7 linked regions of the Homo sapiens genome follow. The protein of the gene in region 4 purifies or fractionates together with the protein of the main gene of each other region. This does not show direct contact. Each region holds a gene or a part of one and is shown on either strand. Other genes may lie near its edges.

Region 1 (3,500 bases), on a different chromosome or scaffold from region 4:
TGCATTAATGTGTAAACTGTGTATAATCAGCGGCTTTATTCCAAAAAGTGCCTGATGTTTTGGCATGCACTGGATATATTTGCTGTGTGAGAATGTTTGTGATAGCAGGATCAGCTAAGCTCAGTTAGTGTGTATGATTCACTAGAATATGGACTAGCTGCCTGTTTGGGATTACAGTTGTTCTAACAAAGCACATGTGGGGAGTCAGAGGAGTTTGTATGCTTTTACAAAAATGTGTTATTGTCTTATGTGATTTATTTTCCTTCATTAAAAAAATTTGATTCAAAACATTTGTGTTCTTTCTTTTTCTCGTTCCCCACTCCCTTCAGAATAACATAGCTGATCCAGAAGAACTGTTCACAAAATTAGAGCGCATTGGGAAAGGCTCATTTGGGGAAGTTTTCAAAGGAATTGATAACCGTACCCAGCAAGTCGTTGCTATTAAAATCATAGACCTTGAGGAAGCCGAAGATGAAATAGAAGACATTCAGCAAGAAATAACTGTCTTGAGTCAATGTGACAGCTCATATGTAACAAAATACTATGGGTCATATTTAAAGGTAATGTGTGTGCTGTATTATTTAAGTCATAAGGTATTTTCATTAGAAGTTTTTTAATTCTATTTTTTTGAAAGGCAATGTCTTAAATTAGGATTTGGCAGTCTATGGCTTCCAGGCAGAATCCAGCTCCATTTATAGTGCCAAATAAACCGTTGTTAGATTTAGCAGCTGTATTCTGAATGCATCCCAGTACTCAGCTGCACCCCTTTTCCACACCTGAACTTTTGGTTTGATGGAGGAGCAGAAATGCAGCTGGTCCTGGAGACATCTCCTTTGTCAGGAAAGAGCTATCCCCCTGGGTTTCCAGACACTATTCTCAATGGTCTTAACTGTCTCAACCTCAGAGCTGATGGAACATGTAAGTATGTCACTTATTTCATTGAGTTATGGTAGTTATTTACACATTTCTCTCCCCCACCAGGTTGTGAGCTCCTTCATAGCAGGGAGTTTAGCTTAACCAGTCCTGGTACTTACATTCCTTAGCACAGGGTATGGTACATCTTAAGCATGTGGTAAATATTTGTTAAAATGGAATTAAGTGGAATAACATCTGCCTCCCCCTCCAAATAAAAGTTGGATTTTTACTGGTTCCAGGATCATGGGATTAGCAGACACCTGAAGTTCCAGCAGATGGAGGTGTTACTACATAGCAGAAAACTGGTTGGTAAAACCCAGTGGTCCTTGGGTTCCAGAGTTAGAAGTCAGGATTCGTGTCTGTTGAAATGTGAATAATAAATAGTTGAAGAAAAGCCCCCATGAACTCTAGCTTAGTTTGGAGTTTGAATCATTTTAAAATTAAAATTGTTTATCCTTGTATTGCAGTTTTTCAAATGAAGGCTGTGCTAGATCTTTGCCATTCAGGGTTTAAAAGGAGGGAAGTGTTTGTTGTTACTGGTTGATCTATAGGCCAAAAAGAGCGTATCTATAACTAATTAAGCTGTTGGCCTGCGTAAAAATTAATGCTATCATTTTATCCTCTGCTGACCAAATAAAACTTCGGATATCCATCTATACCTTTACGAAATAACCTGTCTTCAAGTTCACAGATTCTTTCTTCTGTTTGATCAGTTCTGCTATTGACACTTTATTGTATTGTTTCATTTCATTCATTGTATTTTTCAGCTTTGAAATTTCTGAGTTTTTAAAATGATTTAATCTACTTGTTAAATTTATCATTTTGTTCATTTATTGTTTTCCTGATTTCACTTGTTTCTTTGTATTTTCTCGAAGTTTGCTGAGCTTCCTTGACACAATTATTTTAAATTATTTGTCAGGCAGTTTATAAATCTCCATTTATTTGGAGTCAGCTACTGGGAAACTACTGTGTTCTTTTGGTGGTGAGATGTCTCCTTGGTTTTTCATGTTTATTATTGCCTTATGTTGATGTCTCTGCAGTTGATAGAGCAATCGCCTCTTCCAGACATTACAGGTTTCAGTGTGAAAAGACCTTCTTCCTCTGTAGGACAGTGTGAGAGCAATGGCTGGGTGGGTTGCAGTGGTTCTGGCTCCAATGAGGGCATAGGAGTATAGTTCCTGTGCAGCTTTGTCACTTGAGATTAGTGTTGACAAAGATTGCAGGGATCCTCAGTGGTCAATACCTTGGTTGTCTACAACAGTGGTGAGGGCTGTTTGAGGTCTTTGGTGGCAAGAGCTGCTAGGGTCCCCCCAGTCTCTTTTTCTTCCACCAGAGAAATCATAGCCGAGTAGATCCCTTTTGGCATTGGGTCTGCTTGTGGGCCCACTTGAGGTGGCACTAGTGTCTAATGAGTGATGCCCATGGAGTGGCCACAGAACTAAGGCTTCAAGCATAGGCATATCTGGAGGGACATGCTCTGGGGCCCAAGCCAATAGTAATACCAACGTCCTAGGTACAAATACCCCCTACTGCTGCACAGAGCTACAGTGGCTCTGAGGGTGGCGTAGGGCCTAGCTATTTGTAACATCTGAGCTGATGTCTGGAGCATAGGCACGCTCAGAGGGACCTTGTCTCCAGAGCCTGGGATGTGAGCTAGCTCACTATGGCAGTGATTAGCTCAAGTGTCTGAGCTGTGGGTGGGTCCAGTGCAACCACTCAGCTGGTCTGGAGTCCAGAACACAGGCTAGCTTTCAGTGGTGACTGTGTGGATGTCTGGAGCATAGGCACACTCAGAGAAACCTTGGCTCCGGGGCCCTGGGGTGTGAGCTAGCTCACTGTGGCAGTGGCTCCAATGTCTGAGGTATGGTTGAGCTCAGTGAAGACGCAGAATCTGGGTCTGGAGTGTGGGCACTAGTGGAGTGGCCATGACTCAGAGGTCTGGAGCTGCATCAGTTTTCAGAGTGGTGGCTTCTTTCTCCATGTGGCTCAACAATGTCTTCTTCTTGAGATGAGAGAGTTTTGTAGTCATGTATTCCTCTTGGGGTTCCCTGGCAGAAATGGCTGTTGACTACCTCAGTAGCAAGAGATGCCAGTGTCCTCTGCAGAGCAGGCCACTGGGGACCATGATGGCTTCTACTGTGTAGTGATACCAATAGCCTCCACCTTTCATCTTTGTTCCTAGACATTTCCTGGCCTCTCAGGTATGCTGATCTCCTCAGTGATCCTTCCTGTGGAGTTATTCTTTCTTTTTTGCTCCACTGTGTTGCTGCAGATTGTTAAATAGGCCCTTGAATCCTTCCAGAGTTACTTGGGTTTGTGGATAGCTGTCTATATTTGGGGGCTTTTTATGTATATGTGGAGGGAGGGGATGATTAAAACTGGTATCTCCTCTGCCGTCTTGGTGACTTTGTCATCGCTTTCCATCTATCTGTATCTATATTGGTTAATACTGATATAGAAATTTATCACAAATTTCACTGCCTGTTTACAAAACCCGACTTATTCTAATATTGGATGTATGTGGTATGAATGCATAGTAGAATGAATCATTAAGCAGCCAAACAGCCACTATATATTACACACTG
Region 2 (3,500 bases), on a different chromosome or scaffold from region 4:
ATCAGAGGAAAGAAGGGATGAGTACAGGGCCACAGGGTGGTGGGAAGCAGGCAGGTAGCTGGCCACAGCAGGTGTTTTAGGGTCCTTATTGGCTCTCCCTTCTCTGTTATTGCTGAAGCAGAATCCTATACTGAGATTACAAATAGAAATTATTTATTTTGTTTAGCTATTTTCAAGTCCATTAGGCTATTAGATTATCTGGTAGTTAGGTACTAAGTATTGCTGCTTCTTCCAATCTCAACAAAGACCTTTAATCCATTTCTTTTTTTTTTTTTTGAGAGATGGAGTCTTGCTTTGTCGCCCAGGCTGGAAGTGCAGTGGCACAATCTTGGCTCATCTGCAACCTCCACTTCCTGGGTTCAAGCAGTTCTCCCTGTCTCAGCCTCCCGAGTAGCTGGGATTGTAGGTGCCTGCCACTGCACCCGGCTAATTTTTGTATTTTTAGTAGAGATGGGGTTTTGCCATGTTGGCCAGGCTGGTCTCGAACTCCTGACCTCAGGTGATTTACTTGCCTCGGCCTCCCAAGGTGCTGGGATTACAGGTGTGAACCACTGTGCCCGGTCAGACCTTTAATCTATTCTTATAGTCATGAGTTAATCAATTCCTACTTTTCAGGTTTTCCTGGTAACCTGAGTTTAAATACTTCATTGTCAGGTCCTCACCACCTCAGCCAGCAGCTCTTTCAGCCACTGTGGATAAACCTTTATTGTAATGCTGAGGTCCAGAACTTTGGAAATAAAAAATGAAAAACACAAAACAAACTTCCTTGCTTGTAAAAAAGGACTTTTTTCAAGGACTTTTCTCCTACATTCATATTTTCTTAGATATGTCTTTGTTATGGCAACTTAATGACAAAATTTTGATTGGCAATTCTGTCTTTGCACAAGACTCAAGATTAAAAACAATTCCCATCTGAACCATTCTTTTTAGAGGCAATCTGTAATCTCTCGGATTAGGAATCCACACAATGTGGGGATAATGTGGGTTTGAAGGCAGGTTCTGGTGTTTTGTAAATTTGTGACTTTGAGCAAGTTGTGTAATCTCTATGCCTCAGATTTCTCATTGGTGAAATGGAAATGATAATAGCAACAAGATCATAGGATTTTTGTGAGAATGGAATGAGATAATATATTGATAGCAGTTAGGACAGTGCATGACATAGTAAATACTCAGATGTTAGCTGCTGCTTTTTTTGTTGTTACTGATTGTTGTCTTCACGTGGTTAGTCACCAGAAATGTGTAAGTATATAACCTCTAAGACCCAGAAGGGACTAGTTCTTGGAAGTTCTGAGAAGGGAGGGAAAGAATCTGTTGTCTGGGGTGGATTTGGAAGGGCCTGGAGCACCAACATTGCCTGGGGTTAAAGTGTTGAGGTTGAAAGGGAAAACCGATCATAGATAAGTCAGGTGGTGATTGATAGGGAACACCTGCCATATTGCAGATTTTTTTCCTTTTAGTCTTGATTTGATACGGAGGCGATATACCTTGTTCCTAAATTTGAGGAAGGGGGCAATGTTAAGTGTTCTGGTTTGTTTCCATAAGTGTGAAAGTTAAAATACCATTGTGGTCCTCTCCCCTTCCTCTCTATTCCTGTAGAACATAACTACTGAAGATAATTCCCAAGACTAGCTATATTGCCTGTTAAGATTATTTTAAGATTCATAGTTTGCATTATTGAAACTTCACTGTACCAGGGTCTGTGGCATGTGCTTTATTCAAGAAATGTTTTCTGGGTATTTGTCATCTGAAAGACATTACTCCTTTCAATTAACAATTGTAGAGTGCATGAAGAATAAGAGAATAAAATCCTCTCTTGACCTTGATGTCCTTGTACTTCCGGGGAGTTTTAGTGTTGCTTGGAAATCTAATGGGTTTAGTCTTTTTCCCCCCTCTCTGAGGCTTTCATGACTTAGTGCACATGCATTTTTTAGGTTTGTGGGTCAGAGCAATCCTTCTTTTCCTTTGGCCTAGTTGGATTAGTTTTGCAAGTGTAAGGGGAGAACTTCAGAAGTCTAATGCACATGTACCTGTGTGCATTAAATGGCTGGAGTTTTAACTGCCCCTTTTTAAGCCAGGAGAGAAAGTGGACTTGGGACCAGCATTGTCAGGATGGTGGGCAGGGACTTGCTAGGTATGTCTGGAAAGCTCCTGCTGTTCTTTCTCTGCTCAGGCACGTTCTTTGGTTGGGAAAGGGCAGGCATTGTGGGAATGGCTAAGAGCCAGATTGAAAACCATTGCATTTGCTAAGCTACACCTTTCCCTAACACAGGTTCCTGGCTAGATGATTTTAAAACCCAGTCAGTGTTGGCCACATTTCAATCTTGAAGCAAAGTGATAGTGTATGGGTGTCACTTTCCTAAAATGTATTTCTGTGATGTACACTTCCCACTCTGCCCCTGCTATGGCCACCTGAGTCTCAGCATCACTGAGGCTTGTTAGGCTCAGGTCAGTAGAGCACTAGGGAGTGCTGGGCATTGTAGACAGGCTTCTTGTAGCGTCACCAGATTCCTTCCTTAGACCTGGGAACAGATTTATCTTTCCTGTCTCACTAAGGAACTGGGGAGATTATCGAGAACTAACCTTTATTGGCACATTGGAGTATACAGTGTAAAGCACTCTCACAGACATTGAAAGCCTGTGATTTAGTCCTTGATTCAGACTGAATCATTGCAAGTCCATTGATTCAACAGTGAGCAGTAAGGAAGGCAGGGCTGAGCAGGGCAGGCAGCTGGTGATGGGGAGAGCTGGACATGAATGACTTGACATTCAGTGCTGTTTTCACACAACTGGACTGCAGCTTATCATATTTATTATCTGCCTTTCTGTCTGAAGCAAGCACACGATCTTTTCATATTTTTGAATGGTTTTGATATGATTAATCAGCTGACTATAAAGCAAGGAGGAGGAAATTAGGGCTTCCAGAAGTCTTAAAAAAATACTCAGAGATAACTCACCCCTGGTGTGTGTCTGAGCTTATGGCCTTACTCCAGGCCCCCAACCCCCCCATAAATAGCTGCTGTTTTTGTTTTGTTTTATTTTGTTTTTTTTAAAAAATTGCTGCAAAGTTCTGGTTAGCTGCTCTGCACCCTTTTCTGTACTGGTCATTAAGGTCCAAGCTTGCTTTCTGACAAGTAGGTTATGGCTTATACTCCCTTATACTTCATTACGGATAAAAATAAAGAGTCTGCCAGTGGAAAGGTTCAGTCTGCTGATGTACAGCCATTGAAGGAAGACTGACTTACACTCTGCAAGGATATTTTGGCTATGCAAGGGCTTCCTGGGTTTTTGCCTCTGACTTACCTAGGAATTGTTTCCAACCACTTCCTCTTTCATGCTTTTTACATATATGCTTTTTGTGATAACAGTTTGTGTCTTTTTTTTCCCTGGGATTTCTGATAACACATAAATCCAGAGAATGAATCTGTGCTATAGAATTCTTCTATTTTCCTCCTTTCCTCTCTCTACCCTTTACCCCCGACTTTCTGTTCTTTGCTCTCTTC
Region 3 (3,500 bases), on a different chromosome or scaffold from region 4:
AAGTGAGAGAGAAAGCAAAAAGATCAGTAATGACTGGGGGGTTAGGAGGAAGAGGACGGGAGGAAAGAATAAGTGGAGCACAGGAGATTTTTAGGGCAATGAAACTGTTCTACATAATACTGTAATGGTGGGTACATGGCATTAAACATTTGTCAAATCCAAAAATCTATAAAACACAAAGAGTGAACCCTTATGTAAACTATGAACTTCAGTTAATATATAAGTATCAGTTCATCAAATCTAATAAATGTAGCACAGTAATGCAAGATGTTAAGAGTGGGGAAAACTGGGCAGGGGCACTGTAGGGGGAGCATATGTGAACTCTCTGCACTTTCCTCTCAATTTTTTCTAAAACTGCTCAAAAAAAAAAATAAAGTCTATTATGTTTTTAAAATAAAATGATCCCTAACAGGAAAAAAAAATGGCAAAGGATCTGAACAAATATTTCTCCAAAGAAGATATACAAATGGCCAATAAGCATAAGATAAGATGCTGGACATCACTGTCAACAGGAAAATACAAATCAAAATCACAATGAGATACCACTTCACATACACTAGAATGGCTAGAATTAAAGTCACACACTGTTTGTGAAGATGTGGAGAAACAGAAATTTTAATACACTGCTGGAGTGAATAAAAAATGATGCAGCCATTTCAAAAATTAGTCTGGCAGTTCTTCAACTGAACATAGTTATCATGTGTCCCAGCAATTCTACTCCTAGATATACACCCAAGGGAAATGTCCACACAAAAACTTGTACACCAATGTTTATAGCAGCATTATTCATAATAGCCAAAAGGGGTAAATAATGTCCTAAATGTCCATCAACTGACAAGCGAATAAACAAAATGCAGTGTATCCATGTAATGGAATATCATTTGGCCATAAGAAGTAAGTACTGATACATGCTACGGCATAGACAAATCTTGAAAGCACTATACCAAGTGAAAGAATCCAGTCACAAAAGCCGGTATGATATATAATCCCGTTCATATGAAACATACAGAATAGGGAATCCAGAGGCAGAAAGACTGGTGATTGCCGGGGCTACAACTGCAGGGGTGCAGCTGATGGATATGGAGAGATGGAATTCAAAGCTAAAGGGCACAGGAGGCAGGGTGTTGTGGTGCATGCCTATACTCCTAGCTACTAGGGAGGCTGAGGTGGGAGAATCGCTTGAGCCCACGAGTTCAAGGCTGCACTGAGCTATCAAACCACCGCACTCCAGCCTGGGCTGGGCGACTGAGCAAGACCCCATCTCTTCAAACAAACAAACAAACAAAAACCTAGTTGATCCTGCCAGCAAAAACTAAGGTAAAGGGCATAGGATTTGATTTGGTTTTTTTTGAGGTGGAAAAACAATCCTAAAACTGATTGGAGTGTTGTTTACCAACATCTGTGAATATACTAAAAACCACTGAACTGTATACTTCAAGTGGGTGAATTACATGGTATGTGAATTATCAATAAAGCTGTTTTAGAAATCCTAACACTTGCTGTGCTATAACTGCGCAAAGTACCACAATGCAATAATTGCAGAGTCAACCCTACGATTATAGTATGACACAGGAAAACTTAAAACTGCACTTAAGATCAAGCTAGATGTAGAGCATATTAGCACAGCAAAAAATAAACGACTGCACTAAAGAATCATCCTTCAAGGATTACAGAATTTAAGTGCTGAAAAGGAGAGTACAACTCCTCTGTTTTTTTAAAAAAAGGTAAAGACTCATAACTTAGTCACTTGTAAAATTCTGGATTGCTCTCTAAGAGATTTTCAAATATAATTTAAAAGAAAACGTACAACCAAGACAATAATGAAAATCTATAGAAAAATTTATTATTACCTTTAGCTTCTGAACATACAGCCAAAAATCCATCTTCTGTCATTGCTTTAAACAAAGGTCTGACTCCATATGTATCTCTACCCAGGAACACTTTCTTATTGGCAGTATCCAGTAAAACAAATGCAAACACACCATCCAACATACAAATTGTTTGCTCAATTCCTCCTTTGTCATAAAGATGAAGGATTATCTCACCATCCACTTTGGTCTGGTATTCAAATTCAAAATGCTGTTGCATCTTAGGAAGCGAAAGCAAAACCAAAATGTTAGACTCCTTGTACATTCACTAATAATTTTTTATTGCAAAGATGCTTCAGTATTTCTGAGCTCTATAATCCTTTCATGCACTTTGGTGATTTAGGAGAATCACAGCATTATTAAACTATGGTTCGCTTCAACTCATATTCTGCAAATTCTGTTCAACATAAAGCCGAACCCATGAAAATTTTAGTTGCAGTCTGATAAACAGAACATAATGGGAATGTGCCAGAACAGTAACCTGTGGAGGGATGGAAATGTATATTATATACATACCATATATGTAATACATACATATATTTATATATATACAGATTGAGTATCCCTTATCTGAAATGTTTGGAACCAGAAGTGTTTTGTGTTTTGGACTTTGGAATATTTGCATATATGTGAGATATCTTGGGCATGAGACCCAAGTCTAAACATGAACTTCATTTATGTTTCATATATCTTATACACAAAACCTAAAGGTAATTTTATATAATATTTCAAATAATTTTGTGCATGAAACAAAGTTTGCATACATGGAACCATCAGAAAGCAAAGGGGTCACTATCTCAGCTACCATGTGGAAAATCTGTGGCTGTTTGACATCATTGACCATCATTCCTGACTCTGAATTTATTATGCTGCTGATGAGCAATCATTTTCATATGCTTATAAAATATGACATACCATTAATACAGTAAGAAAGTAATAAGTAGCATAGTAGAATCACCAGAATACCTGCATCAGCTGTTAAACAGCTGTACAAACAATGGCAGGCTTTCAGACTCCACCTACAATGCTGCGTTTTGATTAAAAGGTTACTATACACTGTATTTTTTTTTCCTTTTTCAGGTGAGAAGAAACATCAGAAGCAGCTGAGCAACTAGGAAGCGGGTCCTCTGAGATTGAAGAGGCATTCGGCCAGATGACTTTTAAATGTTTCTCCAGAGTCATCTGCTTCATTAACAATGGCTTTTGTCTTGGAAGGCTCTCTTTGATTTTATAAACTGACATGACCTCTTGTTCTGTTATGAATGCAGGTAGCTCTAGTCCTTCAATATCTCTATCACACATTTTCACCATGTCATCTATACCTTTATACTACAGTCCAGTTTCTCCTACAGCTTGACTTTCTGTGTTATAAGTGTTTCTACTTTTCCTTATCACTGCTGCTCATAGAAATATCTACAGGTCTTTTTGACATTTTCAGTATCTTAACACCACAGAGCAGAAAATAAGCAAAAATACACAATGGATAATGCACATAAGTCCCATCTGTGGGGATCCTGCCAATGGCGTATCCAGCTTGAACATGTGCCATTCTATTACCCTTTGTGGGCGTGCTTGCATGGGGAAATCCGGGCATGTGTAGAAAAGTTATACTGCAGCTGAAGCGGGCTGAGA
Region 4 (3,500 bases):
TCTACTAGAAAAAATAACAAAAATTAGCCGGGCATGGTGGCATGCACCTGTAATCCCAGCTACTCAGGAGGCTGAGACAGGAGAATCACTTGAACCTGGGATGCAGAGGTTGCAGTGAGCTGAGATTGCGCCATTGCACTCCAGCCTGGGTGACAGAGCGAGACTCCGTCTCAAAAAAAAAAAAAAAAGAAATCAGAAAACTTATTCTCATGCCCTGGCTCTGTGGTTTTACTAACCTGGGCAGATCACTAAATCACTCTGGGTATTTATTTTGTCTTCAGTTAAACTGGGATTCATACCTGCCTTGTCTTTCTCATAGAGTTGTTGTGAGGGCCAATAAGATAACTTTTGCTGGCATGGCACTTTACAGTTGACTGTGGGTCCCATGGAGCCATGGTCCCAAGAGCTATTCCTCCATGAAAAAAGGTTGAGACTCTACATCCTGTCTCTCTCTAGCAATTTTATAGCTGACATTAGCATATTAAGGTTTTGAGAAGTATTATAGTAAATAAACTGAATACCCTATTCAATTCAGTTTACCTAAACCATGCTATGGGATCTTTCCTTTTTCATGCATTTATAACTGATAGGACTGCTTGGGAAACTGCATTAAACAAATAAATGGAAAGCCTCTTGTGGAGAATATTTCAATGGATTAACCAGCTTCCTGTGTCGTACCTAACTTTTTGAATTTAGAATGGTTATTAAATTAGGGGCCTAGAGAATCGGAATTGTTATACAGAGATTGTCACGGTAATGACCTTGATTGTAATGCAGTTTAATTTTTTATCCTCAAAACATCTTGTGAGTTGTATTATGGTCTGTATTATGATCCTCATTTTATAAATGCAGCAGTCTGGGAGGTTGAGCAGATTGACGTAAGGTATATAACTACTTAAGAGAATGAGCCACAATGGCACTCAGGTCTCTTGGCTAAAGCAAGCCAATGATGTATCCAGTCTTCACCCTGGCTTTACCACAGGAGGAGTAGGGGATCTTGTATGAAAGGAGTGAGAGTCGGCCAGGCGCAGTGGCTGATGTCTGTAATCTCAACCCTTTGGGAATCCAAGGTGGACAGATCACCTGAGGGTCGGGAGTTCGAGACCAGCCAACATGGAGAAACCCCATCTCTACTAAAAATACAAAATTAGCCAGGCGTGGTGGTGCATGGCTGTAATCCCAGCTACTTGGGAGGCTGAGGCAGGAGAATCGTTTGAACCCAGGAGGTGGAGGTTGTGGTGGGCCGAGATCACGCCATTGTACTCCAGCCTGGGCAACAAGAGTGAAACTCCATCTCAAAAAAAAAAAAAAAAAAAAAAAGGAATGAGAGTCAACTGCACCTTTTAGGAATCAGCCAGATTGATGTTTGGCAGAGCTGCTGTACCTGCCAAACCAGTGCGGGGTAATAGGGAGATCTGCTGAATGCTTCTTTATTTGCTCATTTTCTAGCCTGAGAAATTCACGAAAGTCTGTGAGGCCTTGGAGCATGGACATGTGGAATGGAGCAGCCGAGGTCCCCCTAACAAAAGGTAGAACCCGTCATCTGAGATATTTGCTTCTACATTCAGCACCTATAACATTTTTTTATAACTAGTAAAATGACAAAAAGCCTAAAGGAAAAATAGACTGAGGTGATGACAGGCAGTTCATGAAAGAAAATCAAATAACCAACAGGAAAAAATATACAATCATGCACCAAGGCTCACACCCAATAATAGGACACTTGCCCTAATGATGTTTTGTTCTCAGGGACATCCAGTAGCAGGATGTCCTAACAAAATCCTAACAAAATCTCACTATTGTAATAACTTGTGCCTTAGTAAGCTGTGCCAAGATTTAGGAAGAGAGGTACAAAGCTAACGATCAGCTTTTATTCTGTGAGTCATTTTACATCTGTGGCTTTGATGAACAACTTGACATTGCTGTTTTTCAGGTTTTATGAGAAAGCTGAGGAGAGTAAGCTTCCTGAGATATTGAAGGAGTGCATGAAGTTATTTCGCTCTGAGGCACTATTCTTGCTGCTCTCCAACTTCACAGGCCTGAAGCTTCATTTCTTGGCCCCTTCGGAAGAAGATGAGATGAATGATAAAAAAGAGGCAGAAACCACTGATATCACTGAAGAAGGGACTAGCCATAGTCCTCCTGAGCCAGAGAATAATCAGATGGCCATCAGCAACAACAGCCAACAGAGCAATGAGCAGACAGACCCAGAGCCAGAGGAAAATGAAACAAAGAAAGGTAAGCTGTTGTTAGGATTTGTCCTTACTTACCATTAACCATTCACCATTCAAACATGTATTCATTCAACAAACATTTATTGAGCATCTACTGTGCCCTAAGCCCTATTTCAGGAACTGAAGGACAAAACAGACAAGGTCTCTGGTCTTTGGGAGCTTACATTCTAGTAGAAGAAGACAGAGATTAAATGTATACATGAACAACAAGAAAACGTCAAGTAATGATAAGTGCTATGCAAAACATTGTAATAGGGTTATATGACAAGAAATGACTGAGTAGGCCAGGTGCGGTGGCTTACACCTATAATCCCAGCACTTTTGGAGGCGGAGGCAGTCTGATCACCTGAGGCCAGGAGTTCGAGACCAGCCTGACCAACATGGCAAAACCCCGTCTCTACTAAAAATACAAAAAAAAAAAAAAATTTGCCAGGCATGGTGGTGAACGCCTGTAATCCAAGCTACTCAGGAGGCTGAGGTGGAAGAATCACTTGAACCGGGGAGGAGGAGGTTGCAGTGAGTCGAGATTGCACCATTGCACTCCAGCCTGGGCAACAGAGCGAGACTACATCTCAAAGAAAAAAAAAAAAAAAGAAATGACTGAGTAGCCTCTTAGGCGAATAGATGATTTAGAAAAGTCTCTCTGAGGAGCGCCATTTAAGCTCAGATCTGAATATAACAGCCTAAGAATTTAAGAGGTAACACTCCTGTGAAAATATTGGCACCATTAAAAAGTAGCAACAAATTCAGCTTAGATGTTTCAGCACTTACTACTATGTCAGTGAGAACATCTGTCACCCAGTTTACCATTCCCTGCTTCCACTCAAATTTCTTGAGAACCCTGTGCAGTTAGGAGAGCAGAGACAAGGGGTGGATACTTGTGGAAACAAAATCAGTGGTTTGAGATGCTAACTGAAAGCAACATAACTCATTCTGTGGCCTTCCAAAACTGACTGAACAGTCACTTTGGCCACTGCAGATATTTAGTAAAACCAGACCCAGGTGGCTTTTTCTGTGCTATCTTAATACACAGGGTAGCCTTTCTTTGAAAGATTAGTTTTCCATGTTAATTGATACTGGCATTTATGCCTAGACCCTAAGAGGAACCAGAGTCAGTATCCATGGAGTCTGTCTCAAAGGGATTTTTTAAAAAACTTATCCACTTCTGTTTGTTTGTTTGTTTGTTTGTTTTGAGACACGGTCTTGCACTGTCACCCAGGCTGGAGTGCAGTGGTGCAATCACAGCTCACTGCAGCCTTGACCTCC
Region 5 (3,500 bases), on a different chromosome or scaffold from region 4:
GGTAACATGGCAAAACCCTGTCTCCACTAAAAATACAAAAAATTAGCTGGGCGTAGTGGTGTGTGTCTGTGGTCCCAGCTACCTGGGAGGCTGAGGTAGGACGATCACCTGAGTCCAAAAGGTTAAGCCTGCAGTGAGCTGTGATTGTGCCACTGCACTCCAGCCTGGATGACAGAGGAGACCCTATCTAATAATAATAATAATATTAATAATAATAAATTTTAAAAGAACAACTAGCAGATTTGATCACACAAAAATTAAAGCTTTCTGCATGTCAAAGCAAAAGGGAGGCACAGAGTGGAAGAAAAATAATATTTTTGAAGAGGGAAGAGATTCATATCCAGAATACATAAAGAGCTACAAATCTTTTTGTTTATAGGGAAAAAAAATAGGCAAAAACTGGGGCAATTTATAAGGGGTAAAAATACAAAAGGCCAGTAATCAAATGAAAAATATTCATCCTCAGAGAAATACAAAATCACTAATCAGATTTGTAAAAAATCAAAAAGACTGCTAAGATCCAGTGTTTTGAGGGAGTGAGTAAATGAGTACTCCTTCGTCTTACCAGGAGATTCTAAAACCGTAGAGTCTTGGAAAAACATAAAGATTCCACCAAAAAACTATTATAACTGAAAAACAACTTCAGTAACATTGCAGGATACAAAATAAATATACAAAAATCAGTAGCATTTCTATATGCCAACAGTGAATGATCTGGAAAAGAAATCAGGAAAGTAATCCCATTTACAATAGCTACAAATGAAATACCTAAGAATAAACTTCACCAAAGAAGTGAAAGATTTCTGCAATGAAAACTGTAAAACACTGATGCAAGAATTTGAAGAGGACATGAAAAAATGGAAAGATATTCCATGCTCATGAATTGGAAAAATCAGTATTGTCAAAATGTCCTTATTGCCCAAAGCAATCTACAGATCCAGTGCAGTCCCTATCAGAATACTAGTGACATTCTTCACAGAAATAGAAAAACACAGTCCTGAAATTTATATGGAACCACAAAAGACCCATAATAGCCAAAGCCATCCTGAGCAAAAAACAAAGCTGGAGGAATCACATTACCTGACTTCAAATTATACTGTAGAGCTATAGTAACCAAAACTAGCATAAAAACAGACACATAGACCAATGGAACAGAATAGAGAACTCAGAAATAAATTTGTACATCTACAGAGAATTTATTTTTAACAGAGGTGCCAAGAACATACATTGGGAAAAGGACAATCTCTTCAATAAGTGCTGCTGGGAAAACTAGATATCCATATGCAGAAGAATAAAACTAGACTCCTATCTCTCACCATGTACAAAAATCAAATCAAAATAGATTAAAGACTTAAATCTAAATCCAAGACCTGAAACTACTAAAAGAAAACATTGGGGAAACTCTCCAAGACATTAGTCTGGACAAATTTTGTTTGTTTGTTTGTTTGTTTTGAGACAGGGTCTCACTCTGCACCCAGACTGGAATGCAGTGGCATGATCTCGGCTCACTGCAACCTCCATCTCCTGGGTTCAAGCGATTCTCCTGCCTCAGCCTCCCAAGTAGCTGGGATTACAGGCACGCCCCACCATGCTGGCTAATTTTTGTATTTTTGGTAAAGACGGGGTTTCACCATGTTGGCCAGGCTGGTCTCCAATTCCTGACCTCAGGTGATCCGCCCACCTCAGCCTCCCAAGGTGCTGGGATCGCAGGTGTGAGCCACTGCACCTAGCCATGTTAGAAATATGTAAAGGTGATGGGAGGAGGGAGCGGGGAAGGAGCCAGCAGGCATAGAAGGGGCAGGAAAACCTAACAGAACTGTTGTTTTAGTGCCATTTTCCCTTCTGGATGATCCGTTATACTCATTCAACCTCACAGCTCAATTCATTTCCATAAAGGCTTCTTGAGGCCAGATGCAGTGACTCACACCAGTAATCCCAACACTTTGGGAGGCCAAGGTGGGAGGATCACTTGAAGCCAAATACATATATGTATATTTCTTTCTTTTTTAGTCTTTCTAGTCTTGCTCTGTCACCCAGGCTGGAGTGCAGTGGCGTGATCCCGGCTCACTGCAACCTCTGCCTCCCAGATTGAAGGAATTCTCCTACCTCAGCCTCCCGAGTAGCTGGGATTACAGGCATGTGCCACCAGGCCTGGCTAATTTTTTTTGTATTTTTAATAGAGACAGGGTTTCACCATGTTGGCCAAATGGATCTCAAACTCCTGGCCTCAAGTGATTCGACCACCTCGGCCTCCCCAAGTGCTGGGATTACAGGCGTGAGCCACAATGCCTAGCCATCTCTGGCTAATTTTTTTATTTTTTGGTAGAGACAGGGTTTCACTGTGTTGGACAGGCTGGTCTTGAACTCCTGGCCTCAAGTGATCTGCCCTCCTCAGCCTCCCAAAGTGTGGGGATTACAGGTGTGAGCCACTGCACCTGACCTTGACAAAGATTGCTTGAGTAAATACTCCAAAAGCACAGGCAACCAAAGCAAAAATGGACAAATGGGATCACATCAAGTTAAAAAGCTCTTGCAGGCTGGGCACAGTGGCTCACGCCTGTAATCCCAGCACTTTGGGAGGCCAAGGCCAGCAGATCACGAGGTAAGGAGTTCAAGAACAGCCTGGCCAACATGGCAAAACCCCATCTCTACCAACAATACAAAAATTAGTGAGGTGTAGTGGTGGGTGCCTGTAATCTCAGCTACTTGGGAGGCTGAGGCAGAAGAATAGCTTGAACCCAGGAGGCAGAGGTTGCAGTGAGCCAAGATTGTGCCACTGCACTCTAGCCTGGGCGACAGAGCGAGACTCTGTCTCCAAAAGAAAACAAGCTCTTGCAGAGCAAAGGAAACAACAAAGTGAAGAGACAACTCAGAATGGGAGAAAATATTTGCAAACTGCCCATCTGAAATACTTGTACATAGCACCAAGTTCTATATCCAAGCTTTGTTTTTGTAATAAAAAATAAGAAACAATCTAATATCCATTAACGAGGAATAGTTATGTAAACTGTGATAATCTGTCCTGTGGATTGCTGCAGTTTTTTAGTAGAGATGGGGTTTCACCATGTTGGCCAGGCTGGTGTCAAACTCCTGACCTCAGGTGATCCACCCACCTGGTATTACACGTGTGAGCCACCACACCTGGCCAGTGTTAGGGTCATGGTGATGTCCTTGTTGGATAAGAATACCCTCATCCCAGAAAGTTGAAGAATTGTGGTGATATGCTAGGGAAGCATCTTGGCTTCCACTGGTCATCCTTTCTTCATTGTCATCCTGACCTGTTTCTCTCAGTTTGAACTGAGACATAGATCAAGCCTTTTACTAGGAATCTGTCCGTTACCAGCTTCTTGAAGCTTATGGATGTATATGCTGCCTGATCATGTATGTCAGCTTTTCCCTTATTTACCTTTGCTGATTAGCCAGGGATGGTCTGACATTTGAATTTGTATCTAGTAAAACTGTCACATTTGTCTTCTCAGAGGAACTGAGATTTAACTGTG
Region 6 (3,500 bases), on a different chromosome or scaffold from region 4:
GCCAATATGTGAATATAGGAGACTTCAAAAGCATAATCAATTACTCCCTTAAAGTTCATTGTAAGTGTTCTCAGAACTCTACCACCTAGAATTTAAAGACGGGAAGATTTACTTTATAATTTTAATTTCTTATCACAAGACTCGATTGTCAATAACTGTTAACGTCCATTTAATAATCTATGGTGAAATAGGTAATTTCTTCTTATTTTCACAAGCGTGTGAGTAAAAGACTGGGTTTTAAGCAATAAATCATTTGTTCTAACTAAGCACATGCTTGGAAAAAGTGCTATTTTTCCAAACGTATGCCTTGAAAACAAATACAATTCAATTGCCTTTTTGGTTCATGGGAAGCCATACTGCGGTGGCTTCCAAGGTTGGCCAACCTGTTTTTATTCTTACCACCTCTTTCAAAAAGGGATGTTGTCTTTGTCCCCAAATTCTGGTGTTGTCCTATGCTGATGCATAATGAAGCCCTGAGGCTTGGAAACTTGCAAACCAATAAGATGATTTAATGATGAAACGGCATGTCAGTTTGACACTGTCTATTAATAGTCCTTGAGTGAGCTTAAATTTGAGACACTTTTAAAAGCGGCATGTAGTTCCAGTTTTGCTTCCCTTATCAGTGGAGCTTGAGATGTCTGTTCCTGCCGACTGATGTTTTAACAAATTTTTAGTTTCTCATGATGTGAAAGATTTTGTATGCACGTCTTAGTCTGGATACTGTTTTCATTAGTTCTAATGCTGCTGCATGCAAATTTTGTTTAAAACCAAAATTGACTCTTCACATCTGGACTAGATTGGACATGGTGAGGAGGCTGGAAGGAAAGTCCTTTTTGCTCTGTAGGCTCTGGACAGCTTTCTTAGAGTTGACTTATCCAGGATTAAGAAAAAGTTTTCTTTTGCGTGACTAAATTCTTTCCACAGTTTGCTTGTGTAAGCATTTTAGATTTAAGCAAGTTCAACTTGAAATATATTTGAATATGAAGTAGAAACAGCTTCATTTAATGGGATAATAGCAATCTCTAACCCATCAAATTAATATCTACTAAATAGCTTCCAAAAAGCACTGACTGGAAAATATTTTTCACTATCATGGCTTTATTCAGTTTCAAAAACAGTAGGGGCTAAAATGTTTGGACATTTATCCTGCATTTATTTTGTGTTTCACAAGGTTAAAATTTTGTATTTTGTAAAGTGTCTGAAAAGGAGTCCACAAAGTATTTCTGCTTTCTTGCTCCTGAATGCAAAGGTCTGAGAGAAGGCACATCCTCATTAGCTTCTGGGTGTTGTCAAACCCAATCCTCTCTCAAGTACCAAATGCCCAGATACATTTATTGGGATGCAGGAATCTCACTTAAGTAGCGGTTTTTGCTGATATAAAGACAAACATCTTGATTAAAGTGTAGGGAGATAGAAACTATACCAATTTGGGCAATTTTGGCTCTAATGTCTAATTTGTTGTGAAAGGGGAAGATGTTCTAAGCTAATGTTCTTAAAAGTAACTTATGAATTTCTTAAAAATAGTTTTTAAAAAGCTGTTTCAGGAAAAGCTGTTTTATTGCATGGCACAGATTAAATGTACAGATGTTATCTTAAAACAATGAAAGAGTTCCCCTAATTTGAATATTCAATACCAGCTGTTATTCACATCAATATTTTAACATTTTACCATCAAGATATTTAATACAAAGGATTGATACATATTTAACTGTTTAGAATTCTAGTTAAACTTGTCCAGATGAGTAAGAGGGAAGGAGAAATAACATTCTCCAAGTACCTACCATGTGCACAAGCTCTACTTATATATCTTGCTTAATCTTAGCAATGATTCCATGAGGTAGATTTTAACTCTCATTTTACAAACGAGGAGACTAAGGCTCAGAGAGGTCATACAACTTCAGGAAAGTTGTATGACCTCTCTGAGGTAATAAATGGCAGAACTGGAATTTGAACCTAAGTCTCCTTGTCTGCAAATCCTGTGTTTTGCAGAAAACTCTCCTCTTGTATTTCATAAAATGTTAAATCTTGGCCCAAATTCAAATCACCATCTTTATGGGTTATTGGAGAGAGGTATAAGTTGGCAAGACTCTGTTCCACGATGGGAAAAAATGGGTAGGATTTGAATGAGTAAGAGTGGGATACTTGCACAGTATCATATTTGTGTGGCTGGAGTAATGTTTTTCTGTTTCCCTCTTAGCAAAGTGGAGTGGGAGAATCTTGAAATTGAACTCAGTCCTGAGGTCTGATTTTCCTATTATTAGTCACTTTCAAGCCAGGTGATTTGTGACCATTTAAATGTTATGCTATTTCAAAGTCTTCTACATCTTTAGAAAAGGACATGAGGGAGGGTTAGTTAAGTGGGGCAATGAGAATGTAGAGTGTAATGTGCAAAAGCAGGACTAGCAGTTGCTTTGAAGATATCTGGGGAAGGCCGGGCACGGTGGTTCACGCCTGTAATCCCAGTACTTTGGGAGGCCAAGGTGGGCGGATCACGAGGTCAGGAGATCGAGACCATCCTGGCTAACGTGAAACCCCGTCTATACTAAAAATACAAAAAATTAACCGGACGCAGTGGTGGGCGCCTGTAGTCCCAGCTACTCGGGAGGCTGAGGCAGGAGAGTGGCATGAACCCGGGAGGCGGAGCTTGCAGTGAGCTGAGATCGCACCACTGCATTCCAGCCTGGACAACAGAGCGAAACTCCGTCTCAAAAACCAACCAAACAAAAAACAAAAATTAGCTGGGCATGGTGGCGCGTGCCTGTAATCCCAGCACTTTGGGAGCCAAGGTGGGTGGATCATGAGGTCAGAAGATTGAGACCACCCTGGCCAACATGGTGAAATCCTGTCTCTACTAAAAATACAAAAAAAAAAAAAAAAAAAAAAATTAGCCGGGCGTGGTGGCGCGTGCCTGTAATCCCAGCTACACAGGAGGCTGAGGCAGGAGATTTGCTTGAACCTGGGAGGCGGAGGTTGCAGTGAGCCGAGATTGTGCCACTGCACTCCAGCCTGGGCGACAGAGCAAGACTCCGTCTAAAAAAAAAAAAAAGATATTAAAATTAATGACAGGAAGAGTTTGGGTTCAGTTATAATTTAAGGGAAAAAACATTGAGGGGCCTAATCTACATTTTGCTCCGGATCCAATGATTTAATTTTTGGGAAGAAAAATCCAGTGATTAAAGTCATGCAAGGAGATGGCCTGGGGCTTGCTAAAAGTCAGGTTGCAGTTTCCATTGCATTCAAGAAAATCAGAAAAATAAATACAACTTTTAGAAGAAACTAAGTTTTCTCCCATTCATGTTTAGCTATTGGGGGGTCTCATACTTCTGGACTTGCTTAGACCTATGCTATCTAATATGGTAGCCTCTGCCCATCCATATGTGGCCACTGAGAACTTGAAATGTGACTAGTTTGAATTAAGATGTGCTGTAACTAAAATACACCCTGGATTTCAAAGACTTAATAAATAATGTAAATTATCTATTCTTTCCTGTTGATTATAT
Region 7 (3,500 bases), on a different chromosome or scaffold from region 4:
AAAGCTTCAAATACCGTAAATATTATCCTAAGTACTTAATAGACATTCACTTAATTAATCCCTATTACTGTTCTATGAGGTAGATGCTATTATTCCATTTTGTAGGCAAGAGAACTATCCTTTTTGTTTGTTTATTTTTAGACAGGATCTTGCTCTGTCACTCAGGCTGGAGTGAAGCCATGTGATCATAGCTCACTAGAGCCTTGAACCTATGGGCTCAAGTGATCCTCCCACCTCAGCATCCCGGGTAGCTGGGACTACAGGTGTACACCACAATGCCTGGCTAATTTTTTAATCTTTTTGTAGAGATGGGATCTCGTTATGTTGCCCAGGCTGGTCTTGAACTCTTGTCCTCAAGCAATTCTCTTACCTTGGTCTCCCAAAGTGCTAGGATTACAGGCAGGAGCCATCAAACTCGGCGAGCAAGAGAACTATCATATAGAGAGGTTAAATTATTATACTGAGCTATACTACTTATCTGTACCATTTTGTTTTTCTGAAATTAAACTCTGATTAATTTCTAGTGCTGAAATGAATGCCATTAGCTTGCTTGTATTATCCAGGATAAGTTAGGTTTTGCTGCTATAGTAAAATTTATGAATTTCGGTCACTTAACCTAACAAAATGTATGACCCTTACTGTCATAAACTTCCAATTGAATGAGCAGGGGGCTGTGCTCCTGCTTTCACTCAGAGACTAAGTGGCTGATCGGGGTTTCCTTTTTAGCATATGCTTTCATGAACACTTAGCAGTGGAAAAAGAACATGGAAGATCTCATATGAATGCTCCAAAATGGAAATTACTTATGTCACTTCTTCTCACAATTCCTTGGCTAGAACTGGTTAAATGACTGTACCCAATCACAGGGTAGGGAGACAAAAAGTATTGGCTTTGTAGTGCCTAGACAGACAGCACTAATGACTACCATACTCAATCAGTCACTTACCCACCCACCTACCTACCTACTCAGTGCTGATCTGGTGTCTTTTGTATGTCAGGCACTGGGCTAGGTCCTGGCCAGGCATAGATGACTATACCCTGAAGGAGTTCAAATTGTACTTGTTGACCATTCCAACTGCATATACTCAAACTTATATCGAAACAACATGGAAAACACTGAAAATTTTGTAATGTCTTGGCATTCATCTGACTCCAACACACAGATTGCTTCAAGAAATAGCCCTGAAGTGAGGCGAATTTTTAAAATGTTTTCTTGCTTAACTTGTCATCATTATAATAGTTTACTGACCTGTTGTGTGTGTACATTAAAGCACATGATAAAAAGGAACTTATTTATTGATACCATCATTCAGTAATTAAAAATAATTGTTTTGCCTAGCTTTATTATAATAAAAGAAACAAAATTGATATATAGATTTTTGTAATCTTAAGTGTGCTTTGGTAAGTGTTGAGTAATTGTTAATTAAAAAGAATAATTCTGTACTGAAAATTTTTATTATCTATTTAACAATATGTATGTAATGGGATAATTTATAAAAATATTTTTTTCTTTCTGGTTCACAATTTTAAAAACCCTAGGTATTGTTTATGAGAAGTGAATGAATGAACATTTATTGATTATCTACTCTGAGCTCAATATTATGCTAAACTCTTTTACATCTCTTTTTAATTATTATTAATATAATCGCTTTTTGAAATAGATGGTTTAATTGAAACTCATAGAGGTTAAGTGTCTTAAGCTATTAAAGGACAATATTGTGAGTCATGTTTTTTATCTGTTTCTTTCAAGATCTATGATCTTTCATTGACATCATGATGTCTCTGTAATCTAAGCAGTAGTAACAAAACTGATGTCTCTGTGTCCACTTATTAGTTCATATTCAGCTTTACAACAATCCTGTGAGGTACATATTCTCACTAGTAGATTCACTTCTAAAAGTGAAGTGAAGTTCACAAATATCAAAGGAAGAAACATCCAAAATATCCCATTTGTAAATATCCTGGTTTTTCAGTCCCAAATTGTAAATAACTTGTGGTATGTCTATAAAATGGAATATTGTTAGCCCAAAAAATTATGGTCTTAAAGTATTCTGACAATGTGATAAAATGTTTATGCGTTAATAATAAATGAAAAAAGCAAAATGGAAAATGAATGTTCAATGTCTGTCTAAATTCATTTACCTAATTTTTTATTAGGTGCCTACTATATTCGAGGCACTGGGGAAAGAGCATTCTAGGCATGGGGAAAAACATTCTAGGCACAGGGAATGTCTAGGCAGGGAAGGTCAAGTGCAAAAACCCTGAGGTAGGTGTGTGCTCAGTGGGAGGAACTGTAGGGAGGATGGTATGTCTGGAGGGACATGCCCCAGGGAGAGAGTACTAGAGGAGGACAGAAAGGAGGTTCAGGGAGCCAGATAATGCGGGGACATCTGGGCCATTGTAAGGAATTTGGCCGTAAATCAGAATGAGATGAGAAGCCTTTGGAGCTTTAGGGGTAGAAGAATGACTCTGATTAATAAATCTTAAGAAACACTTTGGCTATTGTGTTGAGAATAGACTATGTAGGGGAAAGGGGGTAAACAGAAAGACCAGGTTGTTGCAAAATTTCAGATTAGAGACGATGGTGGCTTGGATTAGTGTGGTAGTGGTGGAGGCTGAGAAGTGCTCAGATTCTGGATATTTTTGAAGGTGTAGCTGAGAGGTATAGTTGATGAATTAGATGTAGGTTGTGAGATAAAGAATTGAAGATGACTCCAAGGTTTTTGGCCTGAGCAGTTAGAAGGTAGGAGTTGTCATTTACCAAGAAGGGGAAAGCTGCAGAAGGAGTAGGTTTGGGGAAGGAAGGAGAAGAGGAACTTGGTTTCAGAAATGGTATTGTGTCAAGAATTTAGAAGAAAGGTGGGGCAAGTAATACAAATTTGAAGCTGTTAGTATACAGATGGTATGTAAAACCATGAGATTGGAAGAGAGCAACAAAGGAGTTAGTGAAGATGATCTTTTCTTTTAAAGATGATCTTCTCAACACTGCATATTTAGAAGTCAGGGAAATGGGGAACCAGTTAAGGAGACTGAGAAGGAACAGTTGGAGGAGGAAAACCAGGAGGGTGTGATACCCTGATTACTTAATGAAAAAAGCATTTCCGTAAGAAGGTAACCAGTAGTGCCTAAATAAATGACTGGGAATTGGCCACTTGATTTAGCAATGTGGAGGTTATGGTGACCTTGACAGCAATTTCCTCAGAGGGTGAGTGGAGGCGAAAGCCTCATTGGAGTGGATGCAAGAGAGAATGGGAGAAGCTGAATTGAGACCACGAGTGTGGTAATCTTTTGGGGAATTTTGCTGTGAAGGGGAGCAGAAATATGGTGTGGTAGATGGAGGGGGAGAGGGTTCCCATTTTTAAGATGGGAGAAATAATCGAATGTATGCTAAGGGAAATGAGCCGAGAGAGTGAGAAAGTGACGGAACAAGAAAGAAATAGAATTGGTAGTGGGATATCTTAGGCAAGAGGAAATGGGATCTAATGAAAAAACAAGAGCAT

Evidence for each region.
Region 1: the proteins of OGFOD1 (region 4) and STK26 fractionate together in Homo sapiens (co-fractionation; one large-scale study listed by BioGRID). This does not show direct contact.
Region 2: the proteins of OGFOD1 (region 4) and ISOC1 fractionate together in Homo sapiens (co-fractionation; one large-scale study listed by BioGRID). This does not show direct contact.
Region 3: the proteins of OGFOD1 (region 4) and ASNS fractionate together in Homo sapiens (co-fractionation; one large-scale study listed by BioGRID). This does not show direct contact.
Region 5: the proteins of OGFOD1 (region 4) and PLPBP fractionate together in Homo sapiens (co-fractionation; one large-scale study listed by BioGRID). This does not show direct contact.
Region 6: the proteins of OGFOD1 (region 4) and MCTS1 fractionate together in Homo sapiens (co-fractionation; one large-scale study listed by BioGRID). This does not show direct contact.
Region 7: the proteins of OGFOD1 (region 4) and PRCP fractionate together in Homo sapiens (co-fractionation; one large-scale study listed by BioGRID). This does not show direct contact.

The regions. Positions count from the first base shown.
Region 1 is NC_000023.11:132,054,302-132,057,801, forward strand, and holds part of STK26 (serine/threonine-protein kinase 26), read left to right. Parts: intron 1-329; coding exon 330-560; intron 561-3,500. UniProt on the Homo sapiens protein: Serine/threonine-protein kinase that acts as a mediator of cell growth. Modulates apoptosis. In association with STK24 negatively regulates Golgi reorientation in polarized cell migration upon RHO activation.
Region 2 is NC_000005.10:129,108,249-129,111,748, forward strand, and holds part of ISOC1 (isochorismatase domain-containing protein 1), read left to right. Parts: intron 1-3,500.
Region 3 is NC_000007.14:97,862,409-97,865,908, forward strand, and holds part of ASNS (asparagine synthetase [glutamine-hydrolyzing]), read right to left. Parts: intron 2,089-3,500; coding exon 1,851-2,088; intron 1-1,850.
Region 4 is NC_000016.10:56,468,554-56,472,053, forward strand, and holds part of OGFOD1 (prolyl 3-hydroxylase OGFOD1), read left to right. Parts: intron 1-1,449; coding exon 1,450-1,529; intron 1,530-1,849; exon of another isoform or gene 1,850-1,933; coding exon 1,934-2,238; intron 2,239-3,500.
Region 5 is NC_000008.11:37,769,145-37,772,644, forward strand, and holds part of PLPBP (pyridoxal phosphate homeostasis protein), read left to right. Parts: intron 1-3,500. UniProt on the Homo sapiens protein: Pyridoxal 5'-phosphate (PLP)-binding protein, which may be involved in intracellular homeostatic regulation of pyridoxal 5'-phosphate (PLP), the active form of vitamin B6.
Region 6 is NC_000023.11:120,617,601-120,621,100, forward strand, and holds part of MCTS1 (malignant T-cell-amplified sequence 1), read left to right. Parts: 3' UTR 1-3,500. UniProt on the Homo sapiens protein: Translation regulator forming a complex with DENR to promote translation reinitiation.
Region 7 is NC_000011.10:82,890,431-82,893,930, reverse strand, and holds part of PRCP (lysosomal Pro-X carboxypeptidase isoform 1 preproprotein), read left to right. Parts: intron 1-3,500. UniProt on the Homo sapiens protein: Cleaves C-terminal amino acids linked to proline in peptides such as angiotensin II, III and des-Arg9-bradykinin. This cleavage occurs at acidic pH, but enzymatic activity is retained with some substrates at neutral pH.